Regions from separate parts of the Homo sapiens genome. Here region 1 is linked to region 2. The links come from fine-mapping of genetic effects on gene expression. A gene starts in region 2. The other region holds a variant in brackets. All regions are shown on one strand. Distances are from middle to middle.

Region 1 (2,914 bases), 130 kb after region 2:
CTATTAACAGAAGTCCTGATGCTGGACAGTATATTCTGGGAGTTAGAACGCATACACTCAACCCATCCAAAAGATGTCATCTTCCATCCGCTTGACTGAATACTGGGATTTCTAGGCTCAATAAAAGACTTTTATTCAGGAATACCTCATATCTTTGAAACCACCTCTCTTAGGAGAGACATGAATATATTGCCTAAATATACCCACCCCACACTCCTGGCCCCAGCTAAATAAAACAAAAAATCTTCTAAATAAGAGCTTATGGATGGAAAATTCTGATGGGAGGCAATGGCTGTTTCAACATCCCCACCTCCTTCCCCACCCCCACCCCCATCCCCAAGGGTTTCCTTCTCAAACACGCCAAGGAGCAATCTCCCATTGCTTCTATCACCACCCCTACTACAGCCAGCTTCAGGATTTCACTCAGAACCTTTTCCTCTCTAGACCAAAAATGGATGCAATCTTTTCCCCCTCAAGATGAAATTTTCCTATGTATCCTTGCTAAGAACTAAGAGAAACCAAAAGGAAAATAAACAAAAGAAATCAGAAAAAAAGTCAGGTTTACAAAGTGCAGGTTTTGAATTTAACAATAGCTAATGATTTTGTTAAACAGGAATGTGTATCCAGACTTCTTCCTCACACTTGGTTCCACCCTCAGTATTTCCTTTTGCCTGTCTTCCAGAGAACATCTTAGGGTTGGGACCCCACTCACTGAGGATTTCTAAGGGAACAAGAGAAGATAACAGGGCAGAGGGCCCTTTCTTGCTGATCTCAAAAGCCTCCACCTTTCTCCAGGTGCAAATTTACACAAAATGAAATAGTCCAGACCCAAATGCTTAGCATTTTTGCTTCCACATCTCTTTTGGAAAATGTGAAAAGAAAATTTTTTCATGGATTTGCAGAATGACAGATTTGATAGAATATCTAGAGCACCTACCACCCAAACTCTCCACATTATAGATGAAGTAAATGAATCTTCCACGGTAAGAAGGTGACTTACCTAGGATCACCTTCATAGCAAGACAGTAACATAAAAAGGACTTGAAACTCACAAGATCTAAACAATGTTAAAGGCTTTCATTCTGAAGACTGGTTCTGATTGATGAGAAGGCTGGCAAAGAGCAAAAGGGCACAGGTACACAAA[A/G]GTGTGATAGAAAGAAAGTTGAGTGGCATTTCTCAGAAACCTTTTGAGGTTTGTCACTGTCACCTTAGTTGCCAAGTAGGTATGCCATCTACGTTTGCTTCTTTCCTCTGTTCCGCCTCTTCAGGCCGTCCCATCCTGGAAGTGCCAGAGAGTGTAACAGGACCTTGGAAAGGGGATGTGAATCTTCCCTGCACCTATGACCCCCTGCAAGGCTACACCCAAGTCTTGGTGAAGTGGCTGGTACAACGTGGCTCAGACCCTGTCACCATCTTTCTACGTGACTCTTCTGGAGACCATATCCAGCAGGCAAAGTACCAGGGCCGCCTGCATGTGAGCCACAAGGTTCCAGGAGATGTATCCCTCCAATTGAGCACCCTGGAGATGGATGACCGGAGCCACTACACGTGTGAAGTCACCTGGCAGACTCCTGATGGCAACCAAGTCGTGAGAGATAAGATTACTGAGCTCCGTGTCCAGAAACGTGAGTCACTATGGGGGTAGGAAAGCACTGATAATCAATGAATCAATAGTGGATGTAATTCTAGAAAAGCCTGAAAAATCCAGAGGCCTTCGTTTATACAGAGGCTCTCCACAGGTATATGTGCTTATCAGAGGAAGTGGACAGGCAGAGGATTCTTAGGGTCAGCATTCCCATAGTTAAATTTAGGAAGTGCTGGGAAGGGTTCCTGACCTGCAAATCTCTATCCCTTCGAGTGTCCCAGAAATGCCAGTATCCATGGACTAGTTACCCTCCTTGGGCTCTGGGCTTTACAACTCAAAAATGAGTACATTTAATTTGTAGATAGATGCTGATAGAGAAGCTCTGGGGAAAGGGAGGCAGAGGTTAGCCAGGATAAGTTTGCTTGCTGGACAATTTTACAAAAGTCTGGCCCTGATAATCCACAACTGCAGGTAATCAAAAGCTCTACTTGAGCCCCAGAACAAACTACATTAATTTTAAAGGTCAGTTGATTTTTACTTCCAAGTATTCCAAAACCCCGGGTAATACCAAAAAGTACCTACCTTCAAAGGAAGCCATTTTATTTGTATTGCCCTTTCCTTCTTATTTCCTCCAAAGTCAGAAGCCCCCTTTAGTTCCAGTTGCAGATATATGCATGCCCTTACGCCCAACAAGAATGATTCAGCCTTTTGGTCCCATATCCTTATGACTGCCCAGAGTTTCCTGTCTTGTCTTTTCTTTGCAGTCTCTGTCTCCAAGCCCACAGTGACAACTGGCAGCGGTTATGGCTTCACGGTGCCCCAGGGAATGAGGATTAGCCTTCAATGCCAGGCTCGGGGTTCTCCTCCCATCAGTTATATTTGGTATAAGCAACAGACTAATAACCAGGAACCCATCAAAGTAGCAACCCTAAGTACCTTACTCTTCAAGCCTGCGGTGATAGCCGACTCAGGCTCCTATTTCTGCACTGCCAAGGGCCAGGTTGGCTCTGAGCAGCACAGCGACATTGTGAAGTTTGTGGTCAAAGGTGAGCGGCCCTCTTTCCTGGTGAGCATCTTAACACACAAGCTTGAAACAAAGATACCTCAAAAGGTGCCCTTATGCAAAAGAAGAATTGGGAGAGGAGGATCCCAAGCAGGCAATGGTTGTACAATCACAAAGAAAAAAAACTTGGACTGGGGACAACAGGGATAGAGACATTGCCTATCATGCCATAGGTTAAGTAGATAAAGACGGTAAAGGAAAGAGAGATTTACTAGCACATTGTATTTGCCAGATACAAAGTACAATAACTTGACACACATTTTCTC
Region 2 (2,914 bases):
TGTAAGCTTTTCACTTGGGCAAGGATATTTTTTTTCTCAGCTAAGCCCATAGAGAAGAACCAGACTGATGAGGAAAAAGAACAGGAAGAAATAAAAGGAGAAATGAAATAAGTAAGTTGAGAAAGAATCCTGGAAAAAAGTAAAAAATACAAAATAAAAAGGAAGGCAGAAGGAATAGGCACTCAAAGGAAGGAAAAAAGAAAGAAAAATTCTAGGCTATTTGGATAGTTTAGTTAAGATATACTGAAACCTTGTGCCAACCTGGAGAGAAGATCAGCCAATATAAAGTTAAGCCTCCCTTACCTTTACCTTACCTTCCTGCCATCCCAGTGTCACCTGGGTCTGGTCCCTATTATTCATAACAATTTGCATTGCTGTGTTCCCTAGAATTTGCAAACTGTTCCTTTATTGCGACAATGCTCTTTTCTCTCCCTCCATCTCCCTTTCTCAGTTATACTACTTTGGGCTAGACAGGCTCATCCTAAACAAAGGATTACTCAACTGAATAAAGGAATGCTGAGCCATCTTTGGGGCCCTGTCTTCAATCTCTCAGCAGCCTTCCTAATAAACCCTCCATCAAAATTCACCTTTTGGTCCTCTGCTTTCTTAACTCTGTGATAGAAAACATACCGATTTGAAGTTAAAGACCTTGATTCAAATCCTATCTCTTGTCTGTGATAGCTATGTGACCTTTCAATAAATTATTTTAGCCTTAGTCATCTCATCCAAAAAATGGGATGATATTTTTTTCACAGGATTGTCTTGAGGCCCAAATAAAACCATGGATATTTGAGTCCCTAGCAAAAGGATTGCTTGTCATATAATAGATGCTGAGTAATGAAAAACTGAACGTGTTATAGATTCACACATGCATGAAACCTTTAGAAACCATCTTTTTCAATCACCCTCATTTGATGTATAAAAAACTGATACCAGAGAGGTGCAAGGATTTGCTCAAAGTCACGCAGCCAGTTGTTAAAAATAGCCAGAATTTGAACCAATGATTTCTAAAAGATTTTTGCTATGTAGAAACTAAGACTACTCAAATTCAGATGTTTAGCTTAGTTAAGCTATCATTTATTGGCTTACTCTGTGCCAATCTGGTCTCAAAATATGAAACCAAACATGGTTATTTTTAAGTAACTGAGTTCCCACTTACATAATCCTCAGATCCATCACCTCAATAAATTCCTCAACCTGTGAAACAGAAGATGAGCAAGCTATTTCGACAGGAAAATGAACTATTCTGTATGGCTCCAGGATTGGCCCTGAAACAGACAAGCCAGTGTAGTCCTGGCTATTTTGGCGAGAGGAACAAAAGGAGCCTATTGTCTCCTTTAACTTTCCTGCACATCAGCCAAACCTCCTCCAACTTTTTGGCCACTGACTTTTTCTCCTAGTGGCCAGGACTCCCTTAAACCCAGCTAAATAAACGTTTTTGCACAGGAAGGCAGGTGAGGTAGAGTTTGAAAAGAGAGAAAAGAAAGCTTACCTTTGCTAGAGAAAACTACTCCATATTCATGTCAGCGGCCCATTAATGCTGCACTGCAGACCCCAGCCTGAGTCCGCCAGCCATGTTCAGTCAGTATCTTGGTTACAGGGCCTTTCTCCTAAATTAAGTCCAGGATTCCAATTTGGCAGGGTTTACTGGGATGGGAGGATGAGGGAGGGGGAAGGGCTGGGTGCCCTCTTTTCCAGAAACAAAACTACTGGAATGTCCTGTTCCTCTGGGGCCTGGTTTGATACAAAACCCGGGATGGTTCTTTACCCATATCCGGGTGTTTTACAAATCCTGGTTAGGATCTCAGGAGGAATTACAAGGGGGTGGGTTGTACTTCTGTTATCAGGACTTGCTAATTGGTCTTTGCTGAGAGGAGAACACTGTCAGTGTGGCCAGCCAAAGCTCATGGGTAGATTTCAACAGCTCCATTTAAGAAATGAGGTAGAAATTGAAAGAGCCTCCATCTCACCACCTCTTCCCCTTCTTGCTCTGAAGCACAATTGTCAGCCCTGACTATTATTCTGAGGTCATGGCTGCTTAGTCATAAGTAAAAATAAAATTGGCAATAAAACAAAGGACTTTTTTTCTACATTCTAAGCCCTATGTTAACCATTTTACATGCATTCTCTTATTTAAGTCTCACAATTATCCTGTGAGATGAATACTCTAATTCTCTCTATTTTACAACTGAGGAAAATTCAGCTCTGAGAGGGAAGGTAACTTGTCCAAGGTCACACACTTAGGAAGTAAAAGAGAAGAGAGATTTGCTGGGTCTGTCTAAACTTTTAACCATGAAACCACCACACACAATGTGCTGCTTAGGGGAGAAACACAGTACTTTCAAGGGGGTAGAAGGGACTTCACAATTATTGAAAGCCTACTGGCCACCAGTCACTGGTGGATTTTTTTATATATACATTAACTTTGCCTCCGTCATTTCTAGCAGATTCTAGAGTGAAATTTTATATTAACTATATTTAACATTTTCCACCTGAGGAAACCAGATATAGCTAGAAGATAGCCTGGATTAACACAGGTCAACACCCTAAAAACTAAGACATGGAAGAATTGAAAATACTAAAAAGAAAAAAAAAACAAAATGTTCCCCCAACAATTCAGGGTAAAACTGGAGTCTGGATTTGTTTAAAGTCAAAGGTCATTCCCATTCCTGGTGGAAAGAGAGAAGAGTGAAAAGTCACTGTCCTGAGTCAAGTGACCAAGGTTCTCGCCCCACTTGCTCTAGGAGTAATCAGCTATGTGGATTTTGTGGATTTGGCCCACTCCCTTCTCTTCTCTGGGCCTCTTTCTATTTCTACAATGAGGGTCTTAAACTAGATATGGACCCTCCCAGCCCTGTAAATTTACACATCTAGAATTCCATGAAGAAAGTATAGTCTAGATATTAAACATAGA

Evidence for each region. PIP is the estimated chance that this variant, and not a neighbour inherited with it, causes the effect.
Region 1: its variant is fine-mapped to the expression of HEPH in whole blood (TOPMed, PIP above 0.99).

Annotation. Positions count from the first base shown.
Region 1 is chrX:66,032,185-66,035,098 of GRCh38, reverse strand. VSIG4 (V-set and immunoglobulin domain containing 4) reads left to right here. Exons shown (of 8, transcript NM_007268.3): 2 at 1,269-1,625; 3 at 2,350-2,631. Among named protein-coding and RNA genes, the nearest start is that of VSIG4, 6.4 kb to the left of the region's middle. RefSeq lists an enhancer at 1,375-2,574. The variant A/G (reference allele first, on the strand shown) is at 1,145.
Region 2 is chrX:66,163,049-66,165,962 of GRCh38, reverse strand. HEPH (hephaestin) reads right to left here and starts at 1,716. Exons shown (of 21, transcript NM_001367233.3): 1 at 1,493-1,716.